Homo sapiens: one gene and its partners. The protein of the gene in region 2 binds, or shares a complex with, the protein of the main gene of each other region. Each region holds a gene or a part of one and is shown on either strand. Other genes may lie near its edges. A codon is read from its position in the direction of its gene.

Evidence for each region.
Region 1: the proteins of ANXA2 (region 2) and S100A10 are in contact, whole or in part, in a crystal structure (PDB 4FTG), measured with the Homo sapiens proteins. Residues at the interface, in NP_001002857.1 of Homo sapiens: Val4, Glu6, Ile7, Leu8, Lys10, Leu11, Ser12, Leu13; in NP_002957.1 of Homo sapiens: Phe39, Gly41, Phe42, Asn45, Gln46, Ala51, Lys54, Ile55, Leu79, Ala82, Cys83, Tyr86, Phe87, Met91.
Region 3: the proteins of ANXA2 (region 2) and S100A4 are in contact, whole or in part, in a crystal structure (PDB 5LPU), measured with the Homo sapiens proteins. Residues at the interface, in NP_001002857.1 of Homo sapiens: Leu13, Glu14, Pro21, Ser22, Ala23, Tyr24, Ser26, Val27, Lys28, Tyr30, Thr31, Asn32, Phe33, Glu36, Arg37, Leu40, Thr44, Gln69, Asp70, Phe73, Arg77, Arg78; in NP_002952.1 of Homo sapiens: Lys35 (codon at 2,701), Leu38 (codon at 2,692), Pro43 (codon at 2,677), Ser44 (codon at 2,674), Phe45 (codon at 2,671), Leu46 (codon at 2,668), Gly47 (codon at 2,665), Lys48 (codon at 1,932), Arg49 (codon at 1,929), Thr50 (codon at 1,926), Asp51 (codon at 1,923), Ala54 (codon at 1,914), Phe55 (codon at 1,911), Lys57 (codon at 1,905), Leu58 (codon at 1,902), Asn61 (codon at 1,893), Leu62 (codon at 1,890), Gln73 (codon at 1,857), Phe78 (codon at 1,842), Cys81 (codon at 1,833), Ile82 (codon at 1,830), Met84 (codon at 1,824), Met85 (codon at 1,821), Glu88 (codon at 1,812), Phe89 (codon at 1,809), Phe93 (codon at 1,797).

What each region holds. Positions count from the first base shown.
Region 1 is NC_000001.11:151,989,539-152,000,097, forward strand, and holds the start of S100A10 (protein S100-A10), read right to left. Parts: upstream 4,322-10,559; 5' UTR 4,214-4,321; intron 1-4,213. UniProt on the Homo sapiens protein: Because S100A10 induces the dimerization of ANXA2/p36, it may function as a regulator of protein phosphorylation in that the ANXA2 monomer is the preferred target (in vitro) of tyrosine-specific kinase.
Region 2 is NC_000015.10:60,394,927-60,405,361, forward strand, and holds the start of ANXA2 (annexin A2), read right to left. Parts: upstream 3,061-10,435; 5' UTR 3,017-3,060; exon of another isoform or gene 2,988-3,016; coding exon of another isoform or gene 2,945-2,987; intron 2,413-2,944; exon of another isoform or gene 2,332-2,412; intron 1,502-2,331; exon of another isoform or gene 1-1,501. UniProt on the Homo sapiens protein: Calcium-regulated membrane-binding protein whose affinity for calcium is greatly enhanced by anionic phospholipids. It binds two calcium ions with high affinity. May be involved in heat-stress response.
Region 3 is NC_000001.11:153,541,992-153,552,320, forward strand, and holds S100A4 (protein S100-A4), read right to left. Parts: upstream 3,816-10,329; 5' UTR 3,762-3,815; exon of another isoform or gene 3,751-3,761; intron 3,528-3,750; exon of another isoform or gene 3,479-3,527; intron 2,819-3,478; 5' UTR 2,804-2,818; coding exon 2,663-2,803; intron 1,933-2,662; coding exon 1,768-1,932; 3' UTR 1,630-1,767; downstream 1-1,629. Other genes in the region: S100A5 (protein S100-A5), read right to left, coding at 1,249-1,270; S100A3 (protein S100-A3), read right to left, coding at 5,691-5,855, 6,354-6,494. UniProt on the Homo sapiens protein: Calcium-binding protein that plays a role in various cellular processes including motility, angiogenesis, cell differentiation, apoptosis, and autophagy.

The DNA of each region.
Region 1 (10,559 bases), on a different chromosome or scaffold from region 2:
CTGTTTTGGGGAAGGAGTTGCACACTGGCTTTAAAATAAGACAAAGGAAAGGGGGAAATGTTGTGATTAAAACTCTGTTCTCTTGGCTAGAGGATGAATCATGTAACTCTTGTCTGAGTGCAGCCAATGGTTGCCCAACTGAGTCAGCCCTGCCTGGCCCTCCGTTCTTGGGTGGGGCTTGCCTGGGCAGGGCTGTCTGCAGCACTGCTAGCTGCCAAAACTGAAGTTCTTCAGGGACTTCAATCTGGCATTTCCACCCTCACGTAGCCACTCTGCAAGCTCTATTCCTGGACAGATGTGGGCTTCCTGCATCCTGGTTAGACACATTTTGACAGGAGGGCCTTGGGGCTGGGGCTGAGGGGCTGCAGTGTCCTCTCTATCCCCAATAACGTACTCTTGCACCTGAAACATTCAATTTCATTTAATTGTTTACTTGTCTGCCTGAGATTTAAGCTTCTCTTGATTAAGAACTACAAATTATTCTGCTTTTATTCATGGAGCACTATATAACTGTTATGTGCATAAATGAACCACACAATCCCTTGGGCAGTAGCTGAGGTGCAGGTGTGATTACCCAGGACTAGGCTGAAAGCCTTGTAGCTCAGAGCTCAGGAGGACGATGTGAGAGCTGGGAAGGGCCAGGAAAGGGGCCCCAAAAGTGTTCAACTATGAACGGAACAGTAGATAGAGTACACAGGAGTGCACATTCCATACGCAAAAGGAAAAATATGTGTCCTGCTAAACAGGTCTAGTCAGAATGACATGACTGTGCTCCTTCTCTTCTAACACTTGCTATTTTCTCGTGTTTCATTCATCCCATCTTCTACTTTTTGCTTTTCTAGTGCTGCTATCTCACTGCTGAGCTCCACAGGATAATAACAGCCTTGCTGTCCACTCACCTTTTATTGAAGTATTCTAATCTGATGCCTATACATGCCCTCTACATGTTTGTCTGAGCAACAGGTCTTAAGAAGGGAGGCGGAGACATCTTTCTCTGCATAGTTTTCTCTATGGAAAACAATTCTGGACTCCACAAATTTAGTTACCTTAGGAGGAATTCAATTTTCCATTTTTGGTTCTCCCTCCCTGAGCACCTACTTTGAATGTCCCAGACATGGTGTTAGGCATGAGGGTGTTCACACACACATACACACATGCACACACACACAAAGCTCTCCATGGTGCTTGCCTTTGAGGAGTTCACCAGCTAATGGAATACTATTAAAGCATTTGGCCTGAATTCTAGTTATTTGTGTTTCTGTTTCTTTCCTCACTAGGTTGCAGGTTTTTTGAGCAGGGTCCCAATAGCCAGTGCCCCAGCCCTCATAGAGCCTGCTCGATGAATTGTTAAGAAATTGATAATGATGTATTTTGGTTGTCCTGCGAGTAGCAGACAAGCAGGAGTCCTCCTCAGAAAAGTGTCTGCTCCTGAAAAATCTCAAATGTTTGCTTTGGACCTATGCCCAGATCCCGGCTGCAGTTTCAAAGAGGACACTTCTGCAGAGTGAGTCGGACTTGCTTTGCTCCTCTGTGTCTTGTCCATACCCTAGTTTTCTTACAGCCCACCCAGAAAATAAACGGCAGGGTGTCAGTAAAAACAAACATCTGTTATTTAAAATATGTTTGAGGTTTCCTTCCTTTTGCTTTAGAAATTTTGGAGTTTTTAAAATTGAACCCAGAAGGCATTCTTAAATTTGATCTCTGAAGGGAATTCAGAAAAAATGAGTTGAAGCAATGGATCTGGATCCAGGCTGTCTCTCTCACCTCTCACCAACTAAAACTTGCCCACTAAAGAACTGGGCAGCAAAGGAACGTTTCAGATGCAATTCAATAGGAAGAAAGAACTTGGAAGAAACCTCCTTCAATCTAACCAACTACATCAATTTTTCCTTAAAGAATGCTTAGGCATCAGCCTAATCAGCCAACATAGCTACTGTCAAAACTGCTTTTAGTTAAATCCTTTGGTAGGATGGGTGGTATTTATTTAGTAAAGGGATAGAAAGTGCTGAAAATTGTTTAAAAGAAGTACATTCTTTCTTTTTGCTTTTGATGTGGATTCCTAAATTTGTTGAGTCCCCAGAAAAATGAGAAACTTAAGATGTTAAAATTTTAGTCCAGCTTTCTCAGCACTTTGAGTGCTAATTTATACATTATAATCCTGAAAGAATTCCATTGTTTCTCTCAACTTTACGCTTTAAAAGACTGGACTGTGTCCAAGGGTATACCAAGTGGGTTGTGCTCTACAAAAGTCACATTTTTTGAACTGTCAGTAGAAAGCAGGGAGGCACACAGTCTCAGCTCCACCCTGACCTCACTGGAGTGGCTGCTTAGGAGGCTGGCCAGCACACGGGAGGAAAGGGGCCTATATGATGTGTCGGAGAAAAGCTAGGAAGAGCATCACCCAGAAAGCAGGGTAAGACCCAAAAATTGCTTCATGCCCAGTAGACCAAAAAAATTGTAAGAACCTAGATAAGAAACTCCAAATGGTGGATCAAGGGCCACAGTGAAGAAACTATCCTCTGGCTGTGAAGGAACAAATACACCATTTGGAAGGGATGATTAAAGAGAAACTGGATAGGAATCTGTGGGGGCAGGGCCGATGAAGAAACTTCCAATAAGTTATATGAACTCATTCCCACTCCAACCCCTGGCATTATCTTTTGCAATTTGCTGAAACATGTTGGAGGCAAAGATCACCGACTGGGTGTTTCCATGAGCCTGGCCTCACCTAAAACGCACAACATAAAACTCCATTCCTGGAGACTGAAACTCAAGCTTCTGGGGAAAAATATCCGCAACAACTGCAAACCTCTTAGCGGGAAAAGCTACCTCCCAAGTAAGGCTGAGGCAGGCTGCCAGGCGCATACTGGCCGATAACGAAAAGCGGTCTCGCCAAGGCCCTGCAGATCTAATTACTGCCCTCACCGGCAGTTCAGTCGAGAAACCTCTCCTGCAGACTGGCAGCCAGACCAGGTGTGACTCACTTCCTCTTGGAAAATGCCCTCTGAGATGGCACAGTTCTCCTTTTCCTTCAGGGAGTGTTCTGTCCAAACCATCCACCGAGAGTATCTGCAACCGGCCACACCCACATGGTCTCACAGCTGAGTCACAGGCCTCAGACCACTGGGAGAATCCTGGAGCCCTTTGTGCTAACCACGCCCTGCAGAAGCTCCCGCAGAGACGGAACTGGGTGGGGGCAGAAAACGGGGTGGGCTTAATGCATCCCAGAATCTGGCTTAGGGCTCCCCTGTGCTGGCCTGGCTTGGAGCGCTCTGCATTCCACCCCAGCCAACAAGGCAGAGCTCCTGGTTTCACTTAGGCAGAGCTGGACTGAGGCTGGACAGGCAGCAGTGTCCACGGCTAGGGGCAGCGCCATTCCTTCGGCCAAAGCACAGGTGGTGAACCAAGTACCAAAGGCACGTCTGTCTGTTTCACTGCACCGGGCCAAATTAATCTATGATTGGAAGATCCTTCATCAAGCCTGCTCTTCCTCCATCTCTTTCTGGTTCCACTTATTAAGACAGCAAGGGAACCCTTTCAGTAGAGAAACCACGTCACACAGGGCCCTCTCCCACAAACCCCAGCCAAACTGCTGTAGAAAGAAAACAAGTGGACCTCCCTCCCTCAGCAGGAAGACCCTTTCCGTCGAGCAGACAACAGGAAGCCCCGACCAGAAACGCCTGTTTGGCCGACGGACTAAGGGTTACGGAAGGGACGCCCCAGCTGCCTACTCGTCCTACCCGCGCCTACTTGGGCGGTACAGCCGGGAGCAGGCTACGAACATGCAGACCCGGCCTGCGAGCGGAACCCACCAAGAAACACGCCAGCCAGGGCAGGGGCGTGTAGGAGGGATTCGGTAACCCGAGAGACGAGTGGGAAAGTAGGAAAGGTGGGAGTAAAGCAACGCAAACATAAAGGGAGGAGGGAAGAGGTTCAGGCGCACCAATACCACGGTCCCCTCCTAAAGAACAAGTGCCCCCTCCTCTGGTCCGCGTGGGTCTGGGGGCGGCCGCGCCCGGGCCGGGGAGGGGCGCTGCTGGCCTCGTTTGGGTGTGGCCCGGAGCACTGAGCAGCGGATTCCCCACCAGCCGCTCCCCGCCCAGCCCCGCGGTGCTCCGGACGCCCCGCGAAGCCGGGTGCAGGGTTTTCCCCGGGCAGCAGGTCCGGGCCTGGGGACTACCCAGGAGGGGCGCGTGGGCCGGGCGGAGCTCACCTTGGCCGAGGCGCGGCGGACGCTGGGCGAGCTGGGCGAGCTGGACGCGGGGCGGAGAGGCGAGCGCGGCGGGCTGTGCGCCTTCCTTAGTACGTGCGGCGGGTGGGTAGAGGGAGGCGGCGCGGGAGCGGGAGGAGCCTGGCGGGCGCTCGGCAGGGCGCTCCCCCAGCCCTGTCTCCTCCCCCTCTTCCTGCCCCCGACTCCCCCGACCCCGGGCGCGCGGCCCACGCCCTGCCCTCGCTCCCGGACCCGCCTCGCAGAGGCCTCGCCCGCCCCAGACAGAGCGTTCTTGTAAACTTCTCTTCAGTAGAAACGGTCCTGCTCTCGAATATTTCAGGGCATCCCCACCCTGAGCCTGCCCTTCCTCTCGGGTTTGGTTTTAGAAAGTGTACAAATCAAAGAACCCGGCCGTCCTGCGGGTGGGGCACGCTGGCGCAGAACCAGAGGTAACCGGCTCTGCGGCCACCTACGGGTCTAGGAATTACTTGCTGGATGACCCTGCAGGGAGTGGCACGTGGAGTCCTATCGACCTCAGAGGCACTATCAGATTAGCCCTAGGAGGTCCGTCTGGGGGTCTCGGCGGCCTGCGCCAGTGGAGGGGCGGCACCTCCCCAGAAGCCGGGCTTCCCGCCCCACCGGCCCGCGAGGTGCCGCAGGGAGGGTGCGGTTTGGCTTGTCAGCACCCAGGGGCGTCACAAACCCTTTGTTGAACAGGGGATTTACCCCTTTGTGTGGCGTCACTTGATCAATAGTTCAGTTTCAGTGTGGCTAATAGTGTTAAAAACTGGCCGGGCGCGGTGGCTCACGCCTGTAATCCCAACACTTTGGGAGGCCGAGGCGGGCGGATCACCTCAGGTCAGGAGTTCAACACCAGCTTAGCCAACATGGTGAAACCTTGTCTCTACTGATACAAAAATTAGCCGGGAGTGGTGATGCGCGCCTGTAATCCCAGGAGACTGAGGCATGAGAATCGCTTGAACCTGGGAGACAGAGGTTGCAGTGAGCCGAGATCGCACCACTGCACTCCAGCCTGGGTGACAGAGTGAGACTCTGTCTCAAAAAAAAAAAAAAAAAAGAAAAAAGAAAAAAAGAAAAGAAAAAGGTTAAAAACTAAGTTTCCAAGGCAGTATGCTGTGGTCCTTGAAAAGTCCTTTAGAAGAATTTTCTGGAATAAATTTAGAGAAAACCTAAGTGTTTCCTAGGGGATGCTTACCAACTCCTCGCCCCTCCCCCGCCCGCCCTCTTTTATTTTAATTGTGACTCAGGGTTAAATACAAACTACTAGCAGCTGTTGGTGGAAAAGAGCCCAATCCCAAACTCTGGGGTTTTCCTTTGTTCCCAAGGGAGGCCTTGGGAGGAATGAATGATCCTAAAGGAATGAGCAGACCTGGGGAATCCTCCAAGTGCCACCTCTGACTAATATTGGCTGTTGCCAGGAAAACCCAACTTGGATTTCAGCTATTACTTTCCGTGCAACCCTGGTGCTGACTATTCAAGGGGACAGCTCTTCAAGATCTTCCTGTATACAGTACTTCCCAGTCCCCAGGTCACAGTCACCAGTGGAGGAAATCTCGGATCCCTTTTGTTGCAGGGATTGCAATGCGACTGGGTTTAGAATGGGAATGCCTGGGTTTGCGTACCCCTACTCATCTGATTTCTTCATCTGGTCCACAGACCTTAGGAGTGCTTTAGTGTATGTGGTAGGCCTGGGAATTCAGGGATTAGAGAATCAGTCTCTTTCTCTGAAGAGTTCCAAGTATTGGGCGTTAGATAAGCAAACAATTAAAATCCAGTGTGCTTAGTGAATGGTAGAGGATACTATTGGATACTAGGAGAACACTGAGGAGGGGCTTCCAAGTCCTCTTGGAGTGGTCACAGAATAATTTCTGCAGGAAGCAACATTGGGTAGAAATTTAAAAACAACAATAACACTTATTGTAACTTTTTAATCTGTACAAAGATTCCATTCTTAGAAGGCTTGGAAAATATATCAATGTATAAAAAATGATTTATAAATACATGAGCCAAAGATAAACATTTTCATATTTCTAGTCTTTTTATGCATATGTAACAAATATTTGCATAATTGTGATCATACTGATTATAAAATTAAGTACAGTCATTCACTGCATAACAGTGTTTGAGCCAACGATGGATCATGTATTCAGCAGTGGTTCCATAAGATTATAATAGAGCTAAAAAAATTCCAGTTGCCTAGTGACCTTGTAGCTGTCTAGCGCAATACTTTACTCATGTGTTTGTGGTGATGCTGGTGTAAACAAACTACTGTGCTGCCAGTTGTATAAAAATATAGCACATACCAATTATGTGTAGTATGCAATACTTGATAATGGTAATAAATGACTGTTACTGCATTATGTATTTACTACACTATACTTTTCATCATTATTTTAGAGTGTATTCCTTCTACTTATTAAAAAAACAGTAAAACTTAAAAAAAAGTTTAAAAAACAGCCTCAGGCAGGTCTTTCAGGGGGTATTCCAGAAGAAGTCATTGTTATCACAGGAGATGTGTGTTTTTGCCCTGGAGACCTTTCAGTGGGACCAGATGTGGAAGTGAAAGACAGTTATATTGATGATCCTGACCCTGTGCAGGTCTAGGCTAATACGTGTGTTTGTGTCTTAGTTTTTTTTTTTTTTTTTGTGTGTGTGTGTCTTAGTTTTTAACAAAAAACTTAAAAAAAAATAAAAATTTTAAAAATAGAAAAAACTTACATAAGAAGGATATAAAGAAAGAAAATATTTTCTACAGTTGTATAATGTGTGCTTTAAGCTAAGTGTTATTACAAAAGAGTCAAACATTTAAAGAATTTACAAGTTAGGCTGGGCGTGGTAGCTCACACCTGTAATCCCAGCACTTTGGGAGGCCGAGGCGGGCGGATCACGAGGTCAACAGGTCAAGACCATCCTGGCCAACGTGGTGAAACCCCATCTTACAGAGAAAGAACTAGCCGGGCGTGGTGGCACGCACCTGTACTCCCAGCTGCTTGGGAGGCTGAGGCAGGAGAATCGCTTGAACCCGGGAGGCGGAGGTTGCAGTGAGCCGAGATTGTGGCAGTGCACTCCAGCCTGGAGACAGAGTGAGACTCCATTTCAAAAAAAAAAAAAAAAAGAAAAAGGAAAGAAAAAGGAATTTCCAAGTTTATAACGTAAATTTACAGTAATCTAAGGTTAATTTGTTATTATTATTTTGGTTTTTTGAGACAGGGGCTCCCTCTGTCGCCCAGGCTAGAGCATAGCAGTGTGATCTCTGTTCACTGCAACCTCCGCCTCCCGGGTTCAAGTGCTTCTTGTCCCTCAGCCACTCGAGTACCTGGGATTACAGGCATGTCCCACAGCGCCTGGCTAATTTTTGTTTTTTTTAGTAGAGATGAGGTTTCACCATGTTGACCGGGCTGGTCTCGAACTCTTGGCCTCATGTGATTCACCCATCTTGGCCTCCCAAAGTGTTGGGATTATAGGCATTAGCCACTGCATCTGGCTAGGTTAATTTATCATTGATAAAAGAAAAACTGTTTTAAACATAGTGTAGCCTTAAGTGTACAGTGTTTCTAAAGTCTACAGTAATGTACAGTAATGTCCTAGGCCCTCACATTCACTCACTACTCACTGACTCACCCAGAGCAACTTCCAGTCCTGCAAGTTCCATTCATGGTAAGTGTCCTATTTGTATAGCATTTTAAATCTTTTATACCATATTTTTACTACACTTTTTCCATGTTTAGGTACACAAATACTTACCATTGTAGTACAATTGCCTACAGTATGCTATTCAGGGTTGTAGCCTCAGAGTCCTCGACTGTACCATACAGCCTAGCTGTGTAGTAGACTATGCCATCTAGGTTTGTACAAGTACATTCTATGATGATTGCAGGATGAAATCGTGTAAGGGCACATTTCTCAGAACGTATCCTCATCATTAAGCGACACATGACTGTTTCTATTTTTGTCCCATACTTTTTCCTTTTGTTCTTACTCTTTCCTATGTTACTAAATATTTATCAAGATCATATGTTTATTCATTTAAATCATTCTTTTCACCTTTTTATTTGACAAGTAACTGTTCAACTGTACTGTACTGTGTCTTCTTTTTTCTCTCTTCTCCAATCTGCCAGCAGAACTCTAAGGCCCTAGTGGGTGCATCTCCAGGAGGATGCTGCAGGGTTTCTAAAACATTGTGCTGAGTACTGGGAATACAGTGATGAAAATGGTCAGCACACCTTGCTCTTCCTGGCCTCATGTGGTTTCTTAATGACTCTGTGTACTAGCAGGTCCATAAAGCTTCAAGTATCAGCCATGCTTATAGTCTCTCTAGGAAAAGGGGTCCCAGGCAGTTCTTTCTCCAGGAAGTAGTTATACCTTGTCAACTACATGCATTCAGTGAAGCCAGCTCTGCTTCCCTAGAGAAAACTGATGGCATCAGGGACCAGTGCCTAAGCCTGAGCTGCCCAGCAAGGATAGTGTCTTAGCAGGAGGGTAGCCAACTGAATGGCCACTGGAGGAATGAGAGCAGAGGCCCCATCCATGTGGTCTCTGAAATGATGAGAAAGCAATGTTCAAATCTTCTACCAGGGCTGAAGTAGGTTCCAATGTACAAAATGTTGGGAGCTGGAGAGATTGATCCACTAGTGAGGCAGTATTGGGAATTTTACCACTTCTCCATGTGGCACAGCCACAAAATCCTATTACCCTCAACTTTTTTGGGTTTGTGGCTGTGGCACAGAAGGTGGGCTATCTACCAGAAATGTGTGTTCCTCTTTTCATTGTGTAGAGTTTTGGCCGCTCAGCTAGGGATTATATTTCTACCACCTCATACCCCTAGGTAGGACTATGTGACTAGCCACCAACACAATGGGACTGGAAGTGATATGTGTCACTTGCAGGCCAAGGCAGTAAAGAGGTGACTTTCCCATATTCTTTCTCTCCACCTGACAGGACTCCAAGGCTCTAAGGATGGAAGAGTCATAATTGGAAAGAGCCTGGGTACCTGAATCACTGTATGGAGGAAAATCACTTGCTGAGCAGGAACATCCTCATTGGACTAGCTATGTGGGTGAGAAAGAACCTTGGAATTTGAATGTTTATTTGCTACAGCATAACCTTAACAAAGTGCTGGTATTGAGTGCTAGTATTTTTGGCTGCACATTTGAAAGGATTAATTTGCATGTGTAGTAATTACACTATTATACTGATGACACCTCAGCATAGTGTCATTGTTTGAGCAGAACTACTTACTGCCCTGGTCACTCTTTTAGATACTTATGAAGCAAAGTTCACACAGGTCTTAGCAAATGCATAGTGTCATTGTTTCTTGATGTGTATCAAGCTGTGCCCTGTACCACATGGAAACCTGTGAAAACCCAGCTCAACATTCTGTCTGCCCAGACACCATGTCAACAGCATGAATCATAGTTGTATAAACTTTACCTACCAATTGCAATACCTTGGGAAGGAGTCTTAGCACTTCTTCCTGCCTCCTCAGTTGAGAATCACTGATTTACAGTGATCTGGTCAAGACTTTTTGCTGGCAATCCAAAAAGGAAGACAAACCAACCAACCCAGGTATGGCTGTATTAGTAGCCCCTAAATAGGGAAATCCTATAATTTGTTAAACATTTCCCATATTTTTTTGAACATTTCGGTTGTTTCTAATTTTTTACTGTCAAAGCTAACTATATATCAGAGACTACTTTTGAATAAATATATCTGCCCTCATGTTTGTTTCCTTATGATATGTTTCTATCAGGACCTATCTTTTTTCACTTATTTATGTGGATTTTAAGGGACAAGTAGGAATAAGCCCCATTGTGTGGGGGCAGACAGGAGGGAAAGGCATGTGCCTGATGGAGTTGTGAGGTACTATGTCTGTGCCAGGAACTACCTGCTGTTCTGCATGAGGAGAGTGCAGCGTCCTTTAGAGTCTTGGATGGGGATGAGTCTTGAGAGAAGGTGTCTTTCCTGGGGTGCCTGAGATATTCTGCTAAGGAGTTTCCTAAGGTAATAAGAGCCGCTAAAGAATGTGAAAAAGGGCATTATTAGCTGCATGGCTCTGGGCAATTCATTTCACCACTATGAACCTGGGTCTCCACCTATCTTCTGGGATGATGGAAAAGACTGAACCATCTAATGAACTTGAAGCCATCCAGCTCAGCAAGCAGCAGGTTCTGGAAGGCAGATCCCCACCTCCTCTGTGTGATCTCCCACTCTGTGGAGGGGCAGTTGTCAGGAAGCCAAACAGGGCTCTTCTGTCACCCAGGGTTTTTAGTGTGTGTGATTCGTGAATGCCTTTCAGCAGACTTCTGTCTAGGGTACTGGGAGGACTCCA
Region 2 (10,435 bases):
TCCTCTGGTGTGGCCTACAACTAGAATAGGGTGTGGCACCAGGGCAAGTGAAGAGGATTCTCATGTGAAAAAAAAGAGGAACATTCCATTTCTATTTAATTCTCACAATTGAATCTGGAAGGCAGCTTAAGACACCATAATTTTAAGCAAAACTTCCCCGAGGTAGGTAAAATGTGAAGTTTAGGTCTGTGGAACAGCTGGATTAAAGGGGAAATGAACTCCCACCAAGTTTAGAAACTAGTATTAATTTGGGAAAATATAAAGTTTAAAATCCAACAATTCACTTATTTTGTCTCTTTTCCTTCTCTCTCCGCCAGATTTAAGGTCTAAAGAGCAGGGATTTTATTTTTGGCGGGGGTCTGTTTTGTTCACTGCTGTATCCCTAGTGCTCATAACTATGAGTGGAACACAGTAGGTAATTAATATTTTGTGGAATAAATGGTTGTTTAAAGCAGCCCACTAGAGCCTGAGACTCCTTTTGTGACAATCCCGCTCTCCTTTAATGAAAAATGTCTCCGCAGGCTCCAGGCTCTGCACAAGCGAAGGGTGAGAACAAAGGCTCCAGACAATGCATTAGTGCCAGATTCTAGGCCCAGTGGTGTAGGAAGAGCCTACAGCCCTCAAAATCAATAGCAATTATAGAAGCACATCTACTTTGCCAGGAAAACTACTTAAATCAGAAATTAGCCAGGAAACTAACGGCCATGACTGCGAGCCTAATGTCAATCAATACCATAGTTTAATAGCTCAAAGACACAAGATGCTAAATATTGAGACTCCAGTGCAAGACTGAGCTCCTAATCAAAGTCAGTGAGTCAGCAATATTTCCTGGGCATTTACCACAGGCAGTCTAGTTGGCACTGCGGGAAATTACAAAATCTAAACGGTCTCCAAATCACAAACCTCCAATTGTAAAAATGCACATACATGTCACATCCTTCCACTGCAGATGCAAGGGACATTTTTGGACAAACCCTTGACCTTTAGATAATCGACAGACTTGGAAGAAGGGAAGAAATTACTAAGCAGGACTGTGTTAACACTCCTGGCCCTTGCCCATCAAGGGCACCTCTGCTGCCCCAGTCTTACCAAAAATCTTCCTTAATATTGCCTGAATATTGCTGCTTTACATTCTATAAATTATAGATCTGTTTAGGTGAACGAGGGTTTTTTATTATTATTATGTATTTATTTTTTGAGACTGGGTCTTGCTATGTTGCTCACATTGGCCTTGGACTCAAGAGATCCACTAGCTTGAGCAGCTGGGACTACAGGCCCACGACCACGCCCAGTATCGTTGTTTTTTAAATAACAAGACTCCTCTCGGTTGCTGAGGCTCTTAGGACCACCAACCATTCCTAACTTAATGAATATCGATTCAATCTGCTAGTCTCTAGCTGGATGCAGGTCCGCCGAAATGGGAAGGAGGAAGGAATGCAGCGTAACTGGACCGGCCTGGATGGCTGTTGTAATGCGTCACGGAAGAGCCAGAAGAGCGTCTCTAAGGAGGTGGAAGGTGGAAAAAAGAAAGTGGAACAGGGGCAAAGACATAATTTTCCAATTAAAATAATTTACTCAGTGTCAACCTTAAAGCTAAAAAAAGTTCCAGAAAAATATTTCAGTGATTTAGTCTTCCTACACACACATTGCCCCTCACTACCCTCCACCTCCCCACCACCAATCCCATAATCAGGCAGTGCATGTTAAAAAGGTCTTTCAGGGCTAGCCTGGGAACGTCAGCACCTTCTGCAACACTGTTTCAGTGGGAAAGTGCATTCTGCATTCCAAGTCACCAAGTTCCAGACAGGCACAGTAGCACACACGTGTGAACAGAATCCATCAGTACAGTCTGGGGCCCAGGCCTTTGCACACCAACAACTTAAGGTTCTTGGTAATGGCCCAGCGTGCACCCATGAGGCCACTGCTCTTTTACACACGCACTCAGAACACCCACAGCTTTAAAACGGCAATCTTACTACAAAAATGACACTTTGCATTTGCACAGCACTTTGTTTTTTGTGTACTTTACACATTTATTACCTAATGACTGTGTTTTTTGAAATCTCCAATAACTCTGGGTGGTGGTAAGAATAGGCATCCTTAAGCCACCTTCCCAGATGAGGAAACTTATCTGTGTTCCCCTCCTTCTTCTCAACAGCCGGCTGATGGAACCCAAGCCCTCCACACCAGCAGTGGGGCCAGCTGCACAGAGCGGCCAGAAGGGAGAGGCCCCGGGGCCACGCCCTTCTCTCTACTCTCAGTTCCTGACTCATTGTCACATCATGGCGAGTAACAGGACAACCCTCCCCACAGAATCATGGGGGACACTACCTTCCTGAGGCCAATGTGTTCAACCAAGCGGGAAACTCTCCGGGTAGAGTGAAATCCGAAGTTGCTATGCTACAAGATAACCTAGAGCAAGGGGAATAACTGACGTTTTAATGTCTTCTTTTATGGGGGGCTGAGGGGTGCCTACTCACACTCCCCCCTCTCGTCTTCCCCCGCTACTTCCCTCCTGCTGGTCGGTTCAACTCCACAAGCGCGCGTTTGTTTCGAGTACAGTAACTTAGAGCAGATGGGGGGCACTTTCTAGAGGGCAGTGGAAAGCCCACTTGCTACTGCTGCGCCGGGGACCTGCGGCTCCCTGGGCGGCCACGCCCTGCCTCGGCGGCGCCTGGCGCGTCTGGAATGCGGGGCCTCCCTCCGCCCCTCTCCCCACGCCGCCTCGCCCCGCTCCCGCTAGGGCTTCTTAGAGAAGCCCGACCCCCCACCACCTCTGCCCTGCACCCTCCCGGCCCGAGGGCCGGTGGCCCCTCACCCCTGCCCCAAACACCTTGTCCCTGAGCCCCCTCCCCAAAGACTCTCCAGTGCCGGCCGTCCCTTCAGCCCCCTGCCCCCGACGGCCTCCGGGGCCAGTTGCCGGGGCCTCCCTGCCAGGCCGTACCCTTCTTCCCAGCGTCTCCACACCCCGCTAGCTGGCGGCCCATCGCGGGCGGGCAGGGCGCGCCCCGCTTACCTGGGCCGTGCGCCGAGAGCTGAGAGCGTCCCCAAATGCTGAGCAGAGCCGGCTGGCCTGGGTGGGGCTTTTATACCCGCCACATCCTCCCTAGGCGAGGCGAGGCCCGCCCCGCCCCGCCCCGCCTCCCCCTTACACGGCCCGCTCCCACCCCAAGTCAGGGGTGACTCACCCCGGCCCGCCGGCCCGCAGGGACCGCGCCCTGGAACGCTCCCGAGCCGCGCCACGCGGGAGCGGCCCCAGCGCCCCTGGCCCTGCCCTCCGAGAAAGCCCGGCCGAGGCTGCCCCGAGGCCCACAGGGACCCCGTTTCTTCCTCCTTTCCTCATTTTACTTCTTAAGTGCCACGTCGAGCTCTCAGCCTCGGCTTGGGTTAATAAATTAACAAGACTTTAGTAGTAGACTCTGGGCTTGATTAAGTGTTTTTTTTTTTTTTTTTTTTTTTTTGGCGTTAATGCAATGGAGGAAAGAATTGTTCCAAGAAACATAAATCTGGACTCCCCTGAGCTGGGGCTGTTGGCATCCAGCGCCCCATTACCGTCTGCAAACATGTCAGCTTAACCTCTGGCCGCCAGTTCCCGGGGGGCGCCCGGGGAGGGAGGGAGATTCGCCCTGTGCTGCAAAGCCTGGCCCGCCCCGGCCTCCGAGGGCCAGGAAGCCCCGAGCCTGGGCTGGGAGGCCAAAGCCGGGAGCCAGGATCCCACCTCAGTCCCGCCCAGGGTGGCGCCCCTGTCCCTAGCACGGCTGTGCTCCGCTTCTCTCCGCGCCTGGGGCATCTCTGCGCGGCCTCGTAGCAGGCAGTCCTGAGCGGGGTGGGGCCCATAGCTTTGAACCCGGAGTTTCGTGTGTGTGTGTGTGTGTGTGTGTGTGTGTGTGTGTGTGTGTGTGTGTGTGTTTCGAACCCGGAGTTTCAACAAAGAACTTTCCTCTCCTTCTTTCATGACTGCTGGGGTGTGTGTGTGCGTGTGTGGTGTGTGTGTGTGTGTGTGTGTGTTTCTTGCAGCCGTTTAGCCAACTCCCTTGCTCGGTGTTGCTGTTACTCGCTTTTCTTCCGAGAGAGAGAGAGAGAGAGAGAGAGAGAGAGTTTCTTGCAGCACAGAGAGAGAGAGAGAGAGTGAGATAGAGAGTTTCTTGCAGCCAGTTAGCCAACTCCCTTGCTCGGTTTTGCTGTTTCTCACTTTTCTTCCGTGTGTGTGTGTGTGTGTGTGTGTTTCTTGCAGCCGTTTAGCCAACTCTCTTGCTCGGTTTTGCTGTTTCTCGCTTTTCTTCCGTGTGTGTGTGTGTGTGTGTGTGTGTGTGTGTGTTTCTTGCAGCCGTTTAGCCAACTCCCTTGCTCGGTTTTGCTGCTTCTCGCTTTTCTTCCAAGAGTCACGTTGGCAACGTGCAGGCAGACACCTATTTGTTGTATGTGAGACGACGCAAATACTGTATTCGAACCTCAAACTAACAGGAAAGCGACGCTGAGAATCCCGAGGATCTCTGGCTGCGTTTTTTAAACCCCTCCTTGCACACTACTTCCTGCAGCTCTTTTTCCTGGTTTTGATGATTCTGTGTTTCAATCTCCCATTTATCTTAACATCCATTTTTACTTTCCATTTGAGCGTCAATTCACTCCTGGGAATCAGAGAATGATAGCAAGGCCAACAGACATTCAGTGCTCTGCCCACTCGCATAGAGTGACACAGGCAAAGTCGGCCACAGCTGAGGTCTTTTAACCCGCCCAAAGCTTTCTGTTACCCAGCGCTTTCACGAGGAATTATACGCGATGGGCCCTACCACAGAGCCAAATAGAAAATCAAGCAACACTTTGGGTACAATTGCTGATTTACATTTATAGCTCTTCAATTTAGCCTGAAAGCTTCAAAGTCAGAAACAATGTTTATCTGCTTACTTTGTGTGAACATTTTGGAAGGTTAGGGGAACACAGGCAGACAGTAATATTGGGCACGATTCAGCCTCCCTTCTGTGTATCTCAAGATAGGTTCCACAGTCTCTTACTCCTAATCGTGCTGTGATAGGCCCTTTACAGAAGATAAAATTTAATTCAAATCATGTGGAATATATAAAAGCCATCAAATGTCCAAAAGAGTTTTGTGCTCATCTTGGGCATGCCACAAATTCTAACTTCTATAGATTTGTACAATCACCAGTCTTTGCATCATGCTAAAGAAATGTGCACTGATGTTATCATAAAAATGAAGCTATTAGAAGTCATAGTTTGCTATTTCTGAGGAATGTGAGGCCAGTTCTTCCAGTATAAAAGATCTTTTATTAGTCAGAAGACTCTATTTTCCCCCCTGGTTGAGGAGAATGTTTACATCAGCCCTCAGATTGTCTGCTGTTGTCCATATTGCTCTCTAAGTGCTTGACTTTGTTTTGTTCACACTTCATCTGCTGCACTCAACACCTACTAGCGCCTAGCTAGCAATGATAGGCACTCACTAAATGTGATAGAATGATAAAATACAATTATTCACTGAATAATAGAATGTTAAAGCAGGGAGGGACCCTAGAGATTAAATTGCCCTATCCTTGATTTTTACTATTATTATTCTTATATCTTTTAGTTGAGATCTCACACTGTCACCCAGGCTGGAACGCATGGCATGATTAGGGCTCACCGCAGCCTTGACTGCGGAGGCTCAAGAAATCCTCTCCTCTCAGCCTCTTGAGTAGCTGGGACCACAGGCCCACGCCACCAAGCCTGGCTAATTTTTCTATTATTTGTAGAGACGACAAAGTCTTGCTATGCTGCTCAGGCTGGTCCCGAACTTCTGGGCTCAAGTGATCTGCCTACCTTAGCCTCCCAAAGTTCTAGGATTACAGGCGTGAATTACTATACCCGGCTCTTGATTTTTACATATGAAGAAATTGGAGTCCAAATAAAATCTCCTGCCCAGTCCAGGGATTAAATAATGCACCCAAGGCCCTCGTATCAGTTACCTTTGCAGTATAACAAATTATCCCCATAAACTTAGTGGTTAAACATAACCATTTACTTGCTTGTAATTCTGCAATTTAAGCAGGACACCCAGTGGGGACAGCTTGGTGCTCCTCCACAGCATGTTGGGTTGGGTAGCTTAGTTGGGGTTGGAAGATTGAAAGCAGCTTCATTCGTCTGGCGCCTGAGCTGGGATTGCTAGAATGACAAAGAGCAGGCTGGGCCTTTCTCTTCCTTGGTCTTACATCCTCCAGGTTCTCCTCTTTTGCTACACCACGGTAGTCATGGCAGCCAGCCTTCTAGAAGCAAAAGCTGAAGCTGCCAGGCCTCTTGGCTCACAGGCTGTGCAAAAACAAGCAATAGGCTGGATTTGCCCTATGGGCTGTAGTTTGCTGATCCTTGTTTTAATCCATTGCCCTACTCAAGTTTTTGGTTTTGCCCTCTGATATCTAGGCTCCTCCCTTTAAGATGTATTTCCTTTTCTTAAGAATGGCCCAGGCCAGGCATGGTGGCTCACGCCTGTAATCCCAGCACTTTGGGAGGCTGAGGAGGGCAGGTCATGAGGTCAGGAGATCAAGACCAGCCTGACCAACATGGTGAAACCTCATTTCTACTAAAAATACAAAAAATTAAGCTGGGCGTGGTGGCGGGCGCCTGTAGTCCCAGCTACTCGGGAGGCTGAGCAGCAGGAGAATGGCTTGAACCCAGGAGGGGGAGGTTGCAGTGAGCTGAGATCGCACCACTGCACTCCAGCATGGGTGACAGAGCGAGACTCCGTCTCAAGAAAAAAAAAAAAAAAAAGAATGGCCCATATTTGTAGCTGAGCAGTTCTCTCAGTCTGCTTCATTCATGCCAGGAGAAACTGAAAGGTCTAGAAACTTCTTTTCATTTTGCACTTTTTCTGGTTTAAGCTGGCAGTTGTTTCATTAATACAAGTATCTTAAAAACCATGTAGATTTTCCATATCTTATTAAGGTTCACACCATGCTCCAAGATTTATATACAATTTTCTCAAAAACTTTATTTATATAAATCTTGCTGAGGTTTAATTCCATGTTCCAAGATTCACATTCATTTTTTTTTTTTTAAATAGATCTCTCTCTACTTTACATGTCAGGCTGCAGTGGGACAATGCACTTAAGATTCTTAGAAGCCCTGAGATCGTCTTCGAAGTACCACATTAAATCTTTCTTGGAGTCTTTAAAAAGAAGTTTTTGCCGGGCGTGGTGGCTCACACCTGTAATCCCAGCACTTCGGAAGGCCAAGGCGGGTGGATCACAAGGTCAAGAGATTCAGACCATCCTGGCCAACATGGTGAAACCCTGTCTCTACTAAAAATACAAAAATTAGCTGGGCTTGGTAGCGCGTGCCTGTAATCTCAGCTACTCAGAAGGCTGAGGGAGGAGAATCGCTTGAACCTGGGAGGCGGAGGTTGCAGTGAGCCAGGATTATGCCACTGCATTCCAGCCTGGCAACAGAGTGAGACTCCGTCTCAAAAAAAAAAAAAAAGATTAAAAAATGTATAAAGAATGTCTGGTATATTGTAGGTGATGAAAAAAGCCATAGTTATTTCATTGGCTTTTTTAGTCTTTGCAGCAGCTGGCCTTGCTGAACGCATAGTAAGACCTCAATAAATCCTTGTTGAATTCACGTGTCATGACCCAAACCACACAGAGTACTCTTGGTATGGACAAACCACAATGTCTATTTTGTTTGGAGGCATTTCCAGGGAAAAATCTGCAGTGACTTCAATGTCTCTTTCTCAGCTGTAACAGACATTTTTGACCTCAGTTCATTCTCTGAGACAGCCAGAATTCTCTTTCTGAGACATAATTCTGATTATATGACCCCTCTCCAGAAACTCTTCCCAGCAGGGCTCTGACCTACCTGGGCAGCCTCATTCCCCCACATCTTCACTCTTCACCGCTCCATGTGCCACTGCTGGACAGGCCAGGCTCATTCATGCTTTGTACCTTCCTCCATCCTGTTTTCCTGCTGGAATGCCCTTTCCTGCTTTCCTCAGTGGTGAACTTTGCCTCATCCATCAAGCCTCAGAGTAAATATTATTTTCTACTGCAGAGCAAAGGCTTTCCCAAGCCCTTCAGGCAGATTTGACTACTTCTCTTGGCATTTTAAAAATATACCTCTCCTCTTGCAATTGTCACCTCGCATTGTTATTTTTTAATTTGTTGGTCTCAGCAACTAGGCAGGAGCTTCTTGGGGACAGGCATTTGGATGTTTCCTCTTTGCATTGACATTATCTTACCCAGTACCTGTTACTATCAGATTTTTCTCCATAAACGCATTACCTTGCCTTTGTTCATACTTAAACTCACCTGGCAAAAATTAAAATGTATAGTATTCAGTGTGGTGAAAATGGGCAAAATGGGAATTCTCAGACATTATCGGTGGGAGGGCAATTTGTCAGTATCTATCAATACTTAAAATACTCATGCCCTTTGATGCAGTGATGTTGCTTCAAGAAAGCTATCTTGAAGAGAGAGCTCTACGTGACCATAACAATATATGTATAAGGACATTTATATCAGCATTTTAAGATTGAAACACCCTAGGTGGCCATCAATGAGGCTAAATTAAATTAATTTTAGAGTATGTGTTCAGTGGAATGAAGCTGCTGAAAGGAATGGAGTAGATCAACATGTTCTGACATGGACAGATTTCCAAAATATAGTGCTAAATGAAAGAACAAGCAGAATGTAAGTGCAAAACTGTGTCTTGCTGGATTGCTAAGTTACGATATGATGTATAAAACATTATGAAAACTGATTTGGCTACAGATGCCCACTCTGTCAAGATCATTCCTATATTAACCCACTGGAATATTGGGATGCTTCCTGAGGTGTAAGCATCTTATTCTTAACTCAGCACATTTTACTGCATTTATACATTGGCATGTCAGAGAATGAATATTTCAAACCCTATCAGCCTATTGTTTCTTCCAACAGCATTTTTCCATCTAATTTTGTAGAAAATACAAATATTTAGCTGCTAAGTGTCTGTTATCAATAGAAAAAAAACCCTAATTCTGCAATACAATACGTATTTCTTAGCCATAGAGCCTATTCAAAATAGGACAGTATTTTTCATGAAATAAAATATTTTGAGTGAACATGAAAACACACAAAAACATAGCTGCATTTTGAATGTTTTTATCTTCATTAAGTGTCTATTGAAAGTATTTTGGGTGTTTTGAATTTTTTTTAACTTTGAATTAGTCTTCAAAGTTAAAAAATGGAATTAGTCTTCAAAGTTAAAAAATTCAAAACACCCAAAATACATTCAGTAGACCCTTAATAAAGATAAAAGCATTCAAAATGCAGCTATGTTTTTGTGTGTTTTCATATTCACTCAAAATATTTTATTTCATGAAAAATACTGTCCTAACTGCTTGGGAGACTGAGGCAGGAGAATCGCTTGAACCCGGGAGGCGGAGGTTGCGGTGAGCCGAGATTGCGCCACTGCACTCCAGCCTGGGCAACAAGAGCGAAAAACTCCGTCTCAAAAAAAAAAAAAAGTCTCCTTTTTTTCCAGCCCCGGCCCCAGACGCTACAGCCGCCGAAATGTTGATGCCTAAGAAGAACCGGATTGCCATTTATGAACTCCTTTTTAAGGAGGGAGCCATGGTGGCCAAGAAGGATGTCTACACGCCTAAGCAGCCAGAGTTGGCAGACAAGAATGTGCCCAACCTTCATGTCATGAAGGCCATGCAGTCTCTCAAGTCCCGAGGCTACATGAAGGAACAGTTTGCCTGGAGACATTTCTACTGGTACCTTACCAATGAGGGTATCCACCATCTCCGTGATTACCTTCATCTGCCCCCGGAGATTGTGCCTGCCACCCTATGCCACAGCCGTCCAGAGACTGGCAGGCCTCGGCCTAAAGGTCTGGAGGGTGAGTGACCTGCAAGACTCACAAGAGGGGAAGCCAACAGGGATACCTACAGATGGAATGCTGTGCTCCCTGGTGCTGACAAGAAAGCCGATGCTGGGAGTGGGTCAGCAACCGAATTCCAGTTTAGAGGCAGATTTGGTCGTGGACATGGTCAGCCATCTCAGTAAAATTGGAGAGGATTATTTTGCATTGAATAAACTTACAGCCAAAAAAAAAAAAGTCAAACAGAATAATATGACTAAATTGATTCTATTTATGTTAATATTTATGTGTATTCACACATTTATGTGTATATTCATATATGTCTGCATAAGTAGGTTCATGTAAGCACATATGTAAATATATGGAAGTATGTACACCAAAGTGATATTGGTCAGCTTTGGGAAAAGTATTTGTTCAGGAGAGTGTTCACCTTTACTACATATGCTTGTTTGCATTGTTTGATTTTTGTTAACAGTTAATAGAGACACCTTCTATAGTTTTAAAAAGAGTTGAAAAAAAAAAGACATATAGCCAGCGAAAAGAAGGGCTGTCTTCTTACACTTAAGATTATGACAGGTCATGCCAG
Region 3 (10,329 bases), on a different chromosome or scaffold from region 2:
TCACAGGAAAGGCTCGTCGGAGACTCTTGGCATGGAGGACTGAGAATCAGGAATAGGGAAGGTGTCCAGCGAAGGGCTAAGGCCCAGCACTGGGGTAGAGGTTGTGGATTGGGGAGGGGGGTTCAGGTTCAGGCTGCAGTCAAGGAGGAAGTAGGGGCCAGGGAGAGTTTCCTGTATCCCAGGAGACACTCAGACATCGTTCTACCACAGTAGAACAACATACTTCTACCACCAGTCCAAGAACAGACCTGGGCTCAGGGTGTAGTACCTATCACTGCTGCAGTCCCACCCCAGCCTGGGGGGCCTCCCCACTGCTCCCCACTCCACCCCACCCCCAGCTGGCAAGATTGGAGAGGCAGCAGGGATTGGTTGCTATGCAGTAGGCATCTCTGAAGGAGAGCGTGACCTGGGTGGAGGCCCCAGGGAGGGCGCTCCCAGGGAGGGTGGATGGAGAGGGCAGCGGAAGGCAGCAGACTTTCTCCTGAACTGAAATTCCTCCCAAGTCTCTGTATTCAAACCCTGCGGGAACATCTGAGTCACCTGCCCCACTCCTCTGAAACCTGAGAGAAAAGCCCCATGTGATGAGAGGAAAGAGGACCCTCAAGAGGAGGTCAGTGGGACAAAGCCCTCCAGCCTCTGCACCTGACCTCCATGCACCTCTTCCTAAAAGATCCCTGAGTCACCCAGACATGGCCTTGAAGTCTAACCTCAACCCACCACTGCACCCTGGAGCCACTGGCCTTGAACCTACCTAAGGGGAAGCAATATCATGCCTTATATTTTCTGGGGGGAAAATAATCTCAATTTCATTTGTCAGATCATATATGTGGAATTTTGTCTCCAAAACTATGGTCACCTTCCCACCATTTGCCTCACTCCCACTCCAGCCACTGACCCCCACTCATCTCTTCTGAGGTCCCCTGTCCTTCTCTGAAGGAGCTTGATTCCTGACTGATAACAGATCTCATCCAGGGACCTTTATGGCAGAGACGGTGGATTCGAGAATGCCTATATTCTCATGCTGCTGCAAACAGCGGGTCTCCCTCCACATTGCCCTCCCTGATCCTACCACGCACAGGAAAGGATTAATCCATCCCTGTGGTTTGAAGCCAATGATCTGGAAGTGGGTGGCAGGACAGGGCCTGGACTGTCAACGTCAGCACTGAGTGCCAGCCCTCCTCCCCATCCCACTCTCGCCTAAATACTTCCTCCCTGCAACTCAGCCTTATTCTTTTCCCTCCGACTTACTCCCAGGACACCCAAACTCCATTCCAGACCCCAACCAGGAACAGATATGACCTTCAATTCCAGCCTCGGTTCAAGATCCTGCCAGAGGCAAGGTTGGAGAGAGGTGGGAGGGGTAAGTGGGCTGGCTGAGATCCCACAGCTGGGACCTTCCAAACCTTGGCAGGGGGGTGGTGAGGGGTCCCCTTCTCGGCTTTGACCACACCGAGTGAACTCTATTGCCTGTGCACACACACTGTTAGTCACCCTGCATCCCTCCCCTAACTTCACTGGTCTGCTGTCCATAAAACTTCAGCTCAACTCCCAGCTCTCCCCACCACCACCCCACAACATATCCCTCAGTCCCCAACCCACGCCCCCAGAGTCTCTCAAACCATCAGCCTCAAAACTTCCAAGAATCTTTATTGAACTTGCTCAGCATCAAGCACGTGTCTGAAGGAGCCAGGGTGGAAAAAAAAAAGTGCCCACTGGCGACAGGGAGGGCCCCAGCTGGCAGACCCCCCAACCACATCAGAGGAGTTTTCATTTCTTCCTGGGCTGCTTATCTGGGAAGCCTTCAAAGAATTCGTTACACATCATGGCGATGCAGGACAGGAAGACACAGTACTCTTGGAAGTCCACCTCGTTGTCCCTGTTGCTGTCCAAGTTGCTCATCAGCTTCTGGAAAGCAGCTTCATCTGTCCTTTTCTGGAGGGAGAAGAGGCTACAGATAGAAAACAGAAGCCCAGTGGGTGGAGCCAGGACCAGACCCAGTTTCTACTCCCAGACCAGAGTTCAGGGAGGCTCCTTTGGGAGGTCCAGTTTGGAACTCCAACCCTCAAGGCTAAGCTAGGGTGGAGAAGGTGCTCCTTGGATAAGGAAGTCTGAGTACCTGGTGCAATGGAAAAATGACGGGACCACTACATTTTCACCCAAGGTTGTTCTAATAATCCCATGAGGTAGTAATAGTCATGAAAACAATATATAAACTGTGTTATGTTTGATACAAATATACATTGTTATTGTTTGAAGGGAACGTCTGCAGGCCTGTGATCATCTCCACATCTGTGTCTTCACATCTACAAGCCAAATAGAAACTCAAACAGTGTCCACTGTTGGAGTGATGGCAAGAGTCAGACAGTCCCGGTCCGGATGGCAGTTGTGTACACTGACCACCTTGGGAAGTTACTTAGCACTCTGAGCTTAGTCTTCCCTTCAGTTAAGTTGTGCAAAGCACCTGGCAGTGTCTGACCCATTCATTCTCAGCCCTCTTTCAGCATGGGGCCAGGCAGTGAGTGGTGGTGTTCAATGTGTTTCCACCCCAGGCAGCCACCCCACTGATAGATGCCCTCTGTAGCTAATGCTCTAGAGCAAGACTGCTGCCCTCCTCTGTGGGAAATGCCCCACGTGGGGACTCACTCAGGCACTACCCACTCACCCCCAAGAAGCTGGGCAGCTCCCGGGTCAGCAGCTCCTTTAGTTCTGACTTGTTGAGCTTGAACTTGTCACCCTCTTTGCCCGAGTACTTGTGGAAGGTGGACACCATCACATCCAGGGCCTTCTCCAGAGGGCACGCCATGACAGCAGTCAGGATCTGGGAGCAGGAGGCACAGAGACCGTCTTATTAATCCCACCCCTCAGAGATGTGTTCAGAATGCCAGGCTCCACTCCCATCCCTCCAGGAGCACTTGGCGAGACTCTGCTCCCTCCCTGGGGGAGCCCAGAGCAGTGGGCCCCCGCACCTGGCTGGGAGGGTGTGCACAGTGGGGAACACATGCTCTGGGCAGTGAACATTTGCAAGATCCGCTGCGCAAGCTCTGGAGATTCGGGCAGCAAACTCCCAGGGCCTCCCAGGCCTTGCCTCAACAACAGCATTTTTTCCACCCCTCACTCAGTCTATCCACTCCCACAGCTCAGCCACAAAGGCCCCGCCCTTGCCATTCTTTTCCCTCCCAGAACTGGGTGTGGCTGCTGGAGGCCTGCCCAGGGGCCTGCAGTGGAAAAAACCAGCACAGCCGCTTAGCTCTCAGCATGGGGAGGGGCAAAGTGAGGTGGCAGAGGCAAGGGTTGGAAGAGAAGCTGCAGAGGCCATGCACCTTCTCGAGCTGGGCTGCTGCGTGCAGGGCAGAGGCTCATGGGGCACACCACCAGACAAAGGCCCACAGTTGCCTTCTGCCTTTCCTTTGCTTCCTGCTCCCGAGTGCGCAACCCAGCAAACATGAGCCAGTGCAGATACCCACAGGCACATACATACCAACACGTACTATAGCAACAGCGTGTGCAAGCCCACATCTCAGAAGCACCTGGAGAGCTCAAATTCAGTCACTTGCTCACTTTTCTGTTTGTTTTTTCCTCCGTCTTACGTGCATGTGTGTGTGTGCCATGCACACCCACGCACACAATCCACCCAGAGTTCCACATCAGAATCTCACATCTGGATCTCTTTAGCACATCTGGCCCCCACCAGCCTCCCCTTCTCCTTCCCCAGCCCTGGCCTCTGACACCCCTTGCATGCCAGTCAGGCCAACACAACTCACCAAACCAAGAAAGAAGAAGCGCTGAGGAGAGAGGGTTGTAGAGAGGGGAAGAATGGGGACGGCCCAGAGGTCTGACCTATTTATACCCCAGCCAGGCCCTGCCCATAGCAGGGGACAGGGGAGAGCGGATACTGCCTTCCTGCTGTGGGCTGATGCGGTAAGTGCCACAGCACCCTCCACCAGCCCAGCCGTGGAACCAAGCCTCCTGTTCCCAGGTGGGCACCCGTGGGTAACGGGTAAGCCCTAGCGGTTACTAGCAGGGGACTGGATGAGATGGGCACCACCCAGTGTACATAGCTCAGCCTGAGTTTTAGAGAGGTGGAGGAAGGGGCAGCCTGTGCCTGGAGCATGGGGGACAGGGAGTAGTCCCATGGGGACCTAGGAAAGGAGATGCAGGGGGTGGTGGGTGACAGGTGGGAGATTGCCCTGGAAATGTGGTGACACAAAAGCTAGGGGGGAGATGGGAGGATCGCCTGAGGCCAGGAGTTCAAGACCAGCCTAGGCAACATAGAGAGACTTCTGTCTCTATAAAAAGGAAAAACAATTTTTTTTTTTAATTAGCTGGGCAGCATGGCTGTAGCCTGTAGTCCCAGCTAGTCAGGAAGCTGAGACAGGAGGATCATTTGAGCCCAGGAGTTCGAGACTGCAGTTGGCTATGCTCAAGCCACTGCTCTCCAGCCTGAGCAACACAGAGGACCTTGTCTCTTAAAAAAATAAAGATTCAGAAACAAAAACTGGGGTGGGGATCCCCATGCCCGGTACTGTCTGCCATGCCAAGTAAGGCTCAGGGTCGGGGCGGGGGGATCTGGAGGGGAACAGGCTCACACCCAAAGGAGGCTCTGGGACCACCTCAGGAACGTCAGTGGGAAAGGTCCTGGGTGAGGTAGTGATGGAGTGGAGTGGCAGTGAGGCGTGGGGGCTCACGGATAGATCTCAGGTTCGGAGAGGGTATCAGGAGGGGCCATTTAAAGTTGGGATGAGTGTCAGGAATGAAGAATCCAGGTTGGGGTGGAGAGTTAGAGGTGAAATGGCATGAAATAGGGGAGTTATAATTCGGGTCAACCTCTCAGGGTGGGCTACAAACCCAGTGAGGGTTAGAAGTAGGGGGTTAAGGCCCTCAGGGGGCTGCGGCTTCAGGGATAGGGGCTAGCTCAAGTTATTCCCTTACCCCTCCATACAGAGCACCCCTTCCTGGCTGGGAGAAACACCTCAGACACCCTAATCCCATTAGTGCTGCTCTCTGGGCTCCCACAGCCCGAGGCAGGGAACAAACACCCCCACTGCACCCACGGCCCCACCCTCCTCCAACCATGAGCACTGAGTCCCAGGGGAAACTCAGGCAGTCCTCTCTCAAAGATCCCAAAGAAAGAGAGAGAGGAAGGGAGGACAGGGGTCCTTGTTTTGTCCCCACGCCCTCCTGCTGGACCCTGGAGGCCACTGCATTTCTGCAGGGTCTGCAACTTCCCTCAGGGAGCACCCTGCCCCTGCCCTCAGCTGCCTTCCCGCAGTGGAAAAGGCCAGAGAGGAGCAAAGAGCTCAGGAGACGCGTCCTCAGAGAAGAACCAAACAAAACCAAGCTGATGCCAGTTTTTTATTAGGAGTTAAATAGGCCCTTTCCCATCGTGGTCTCATTGGTGCACGCTCTGCTGAGCCTCGAGGGCCTCAGAGCAGATCCCGCCTCCTCCCATCCACAAGGGAGGCCACAGGGGTGCGGCAGGCAGGCTGGGCCCCAGAGTGGCTCTACCCCTCATTCGCTGGGCATCCTGAGGAAGGAGCCCTCACATCTCTGGGCCTCCTAGGTAAAATGGGTTAACTGATCGCAGAAGACCTGGGCAAGTCCAGATTGAAAGGGGTACAGGAGAGAGGGTAGGAGGGGGTGTGGGAGACATGCCCAGCCCCCGACAGCCAGCGCACCCCCTGGAGCAGAGGCTACTGGGAGCAGGGGGGCTCTGAGGGGCAGTCCTTGAAGTACTCGTGGCAGTAGAGACAGAGGCAGGCAAGTGAGCGCACATACTCCACAAAGTCCACCTCGCAGTCCTTGTTGGTGTCCAGAACACTCATGAATTTGTTGTAGTCACATTCCCGAAACTCAGTCTGTGCAAGGGAAGGGTTGGGAGAGGTAAGGGAGTAGGATGAGGAGGGCAGAACAGCCTCACACGCCACCTCCCTCCTTCCTCTCCCAAGTGGACCCACCCCACCCCAAACTACACCCTTCTGAGGGCCGACTTCAACCTCCCTGCTCTGATAATGCACTCGTTGCAATCCCCTCCCAAATCTGTCCTCTCAGATTATTAATCGAGCACCTACTATTTGCTACTGAGTGCCTACCAAGTGTTAGGCATTCTTCATGGTGCTCTCACTCAGTCCTCTCAACAGCTCTGCAAGGCAGCAGGGATGATTGTCATCCCATTTTACAGATGAGGAAGCTGAGGTTTCTGCTGTGTCAGTTCTCCCCCTCCCACTCCCTCCTCACAATCCAGCCCCCTCCCTTGCTGTCCTGTGCTCATGCTTGTTGTCCCCAGGTCTCTCTTTGCAGAGTCTAGGCAGTGCCTCCCCCCGGAGGAGGAGGGGACGGACACTCTGACTGCTCACCGGGGTCCAGGTGGCCAGCTCCTTCTGCAGCAGCTCCTTGAGCTCCGCCTGGCAGAGCTTGTATTTGTCCCCACAGCGCCCTGCGTATTCCTGGAAGGTGCACACGATGGCAGCTACCGCCTGCTCCAGAGGCCTGGCCATCCTCACTGTCACAGAACAAGGGTGTGGCTCACAGCAGAGTTCCAGGCCAGCCCCCCAGCTCACCTCTGCCCTCTGTGTTTCTCAGAGACTGTTCCCAGACCCATCTTAACCTCCATCAGGCTTCAGGCCCCGCAGTCTCCCCCTCCTCTGAGTAGCCCTCCCAGACCACACCAGCCCCTCCTAATTTATCCCCCTGCTGTCCTGTTGTTATTTCCCCATGTAGAGGTCTCATTGCCCCAACATCGCTGTAAACTCCTCAGAGAGACAGCATCCTACCCCACCACCCACACACCCCACCGTGGGGCTCCTTAAGCACTCTCAGATTATCTGCCACCTCTTCTTATCCCCAACACCCAGGGATGGCTCGGTCCCAGTCTGCCCCAGCCCATGAGATGCCCTAGAAGCCTCCCTCCCTGCAGGAACTTGCACAAGGAGAGCCTGGCCCTGTGCTTCTCTGCCCTCAGCCCTTGGAGAAGCTAGGCCTTAGCAGGGAGGGGCAGGTCTGAGAGGCGCCCCCACAGCCTCACCACCACTGCCCTCACCCTGCCTCCTGCCCTGAACTCGAGGAAGCTGCACCCAGAAGAAAAACTTGTGGGATCCTCTCTGCCTGTCGCCAGCTGTGCAACCTTGGTGAGCCATTTGTCTCTCTGGGTCTCAGGGGCGGGGCCTGATCTGTAAGTTGGGGTTCATCTCACCTCGCTGGCCCAGTCAGGAACCTGAACCAGATGGTCTCTTGAGAGTTGACCAGTTCGGGTGTTTACCAATCTGAGACTGGCCTCCCCTGAGGTTACCCTCCCGACCCCTGGGGGTTTTGAGCAGGGAGGTTCTGTATAGGGATACTCTGTTCTATTGGAGGGGAAGCCCTTCCTGGAATTGCTCACCTCCCCCCACTTCCACTGTCCCCTTCCACCGCCCTTCTGGGATGATGCCTCCAGCCTGGGAAAACCCGAAGGCAGCCAGGAAGGCAAGAGTTTTTTCCATGCTAGCCCAGTGACTCACTCCTGATTCCCCCACGGGACAAGAGTCCTGCAGCACAGGGCGGCCAGGGCCAAGACTCTCCCTGAAGATTTGCCCACTGCTGGGCCCCCTGCTGGGAGCAAATGGCTGGCATGGTTGTGGCTGGCAGGAAAGTAGGGGAAGGGGAGTGGGGAGTGCCAAGCACTGCCAGGATTTAATTCATTGTAAACACCCCAGGATTAGAGCAAGGTGTCCAGGTTCCCAGGAGAGGAAAGGGCCATGATCCTCAGAAATGAGGAGACTCAGAGGTGAAGCAAGGAGGCAAGGAGCAGGTGAGGGGCCTGATCAAGGGGAAGACCAGAGCCTTGAGCCCAGTGCTCCCACCCCAAGGCAGACCTTAGCTCTACACACCTCCCTGCCCAAACTTCCCCAACAGCCCCTCACTGTGTAAGGAAACCTCTGCGTCCACTATATCTGACTTCCCTCCCCGTGTCAGGCCCGCCTGTGGTCATCTCTCTGCTTCCAATGCCAGACCCTGGGTCAGGAGTCAGGCTGGCTACTGGGGGTCCCCAAACTGCCCTGACACTCAACCCAGGGCAGGACCCAAGCAGCTGGCACTCACCACTGGTGCTGGCGTTTCAGCTGTAGGAGCTTAGAGACAGGGCGTCACTATTTGTAGCCTCCCAAGAAAGGAAGGAAGCAATTATGGGGGACACAAGTAGGTCAACACTGAGGATGCCCTCAGGGATCCCTCAGCAGACCCATTACAGGCCCCACCTGCCCACCTATCCACGCACACATCAAAGGCCAGTCTGGGCTCAGACACCACTCCCCTTTCATTCCCCATCTGCCCTCCCCCAGAGTTGGGAACAGGGGACAGTCTCCTGCCAAGTCCTTCCAGCTCAGTTGGAGGAGACAGTCTGGCTTATCCATCACATCACAGCCCCATCTCTTCACTCTGCAGAGGCCCCCAGAATACCAAGTGGGGACACACTTCTGCCTCGCTCAGGTTGCACCCCTACAAATCTCTATTCCGGGTAGAACTTGGAGAGCACGTGGCTAAGCCTCCCCTTTACAGACGAGAAGTCTGAACTTGCCTGACCAGATCCCAGCTTTTGGCTGTGAACTGCTTGCTTCCCAGGGGGGAAATCATCAGGTGGGATGTCTTTGAGGCACAGGAAGGAGGTGTGTTCCTCCCAGGGGCACTTCCAGAGTCTAAGCTTGAGATTTCTGGCCCTTCCACCCCAGGTGATGGGAATGAATTTGGGCTAGAGTCACATGAAGGCTGGCCAGTGGCTGGAGCTCCTTAAGGGCTGTTTTCCTTCTTCCCCTGCTCTGCTCAGCACCAAAACAACTTTCCTTGAAGTCTTGTGGGTGGCAGGATGGGATTTCCTCTGGCTTTTAGCTTGAGTGTGTAGCCTTTTGGGGTCTCAGCATCATGGGAGGGTCATCCATTTGTGTCCCCTCTTGGGGTGAGAACTGGGCTTCCACTTCTGTCTTCCTCACTCCCCAAACCATCAGGATCAAAGCTCAGGTTCGGCTTGGCTTGGCCAATGACCTCAGGGCACGGGGGGCCCCAGTACAGATTCTGCTTTGACTTAGATTTTGGCCTACTCATTTCTTACTGCCTTGTGGTCTCTTCAATGCTTTGAAAAGATTTAATTCTATGCAGCATTTGTTGTTGTTTTTAAGCTGAAGTGGGCACAGACCACCATATTACCAGAAACAGACATACTTTCATGTAACTTCTCTATTCTCTCCCTCACACCAGAGCCTGAGAAACTCCTCCCTGTTTTATAGGAAGAGAACCCAAAACCTAGAAGAGCGTGAGAGGGAAAAGAGGAAGGAGATTGACTCCCAGGCCGGCAAAGAAGCCTTCCTGCCCGTGCAGGCAGCCAGAGCGCCAGTGACACCTTCGACCTCGCCCTCGGCCCCCAGCACCCAAGCCTTGCCTGTGCCGTCCTCTCCTTGGAGACTCAGCCCTGTTGAGGAGGGGAGTGAGCAATAGAGGAGGGAAGGAAAAGAGGAGCTGTGATTAGCCCTGTTTTATAATGGGCTACATAGCCCTGTTTTATATGGGCTTTTTAATGGAAGTATGGGGAGCAGGGGGCAGAGAACAAGAGACAGTCACGCAGCAGAAGGGGGGGCCAGAGTGCACCAGCAATTAATTCAGCTCTAGGTCGAGCTTAATTATTCCCACCTATGATATCCCAGCTCTGCCCCCAGCCACCTCCCTTAAGCAGCCTACCTCTGCTCTCGGGGCTTCATTTTACTCACCTGTCAGTGATGGAGGGTGATAATAGTAACTACCTCATAGGTTTGTGCGGGGTTTAAATAAGCTAATACATATAAAGTTCATAGAGTAAATAGTGCCCAGCACATGGCAAGGGCTTGATAAATGTTAATCAAGAGATGGGTGAGGCCGGGCGCAGTGGCTCACGCCTATAATACCAGCAATTTGGGAGGCCAAGGCGAGCAGATCACCTGAGGTCAGGAGTTCGAGACCAGCCTGGCAACATGGTGAAACCCCATCTCTACTAAAAATACAAAAATTAGCTGGGCATATTGGCACGTACCTGTAATCCCAGCTACTCGGGAGGCTGAGGCAGGAGAATCGCTTGAACCCAGGAGACGAAGGTTGCAGTGAGCTGAGATCGTGCCACTGCACTCCAGCCTGGGCAACAGAGCAAGACACTGTCTCAAAAAAAAAAAAAGAGAGAGAGAGATGGGTAACTTGCCCAGGGTCACGTAATAGTGAGTGGCAGGCCTAGCAGGCATTCATTTTTCGTATAAATATTTAGACGCATTGGGGGTATAGCCATAAACAAAACAAAAGTCCCTGCTCTGTGGAGATGACAGTCTCTTGGGGAAAACAGAC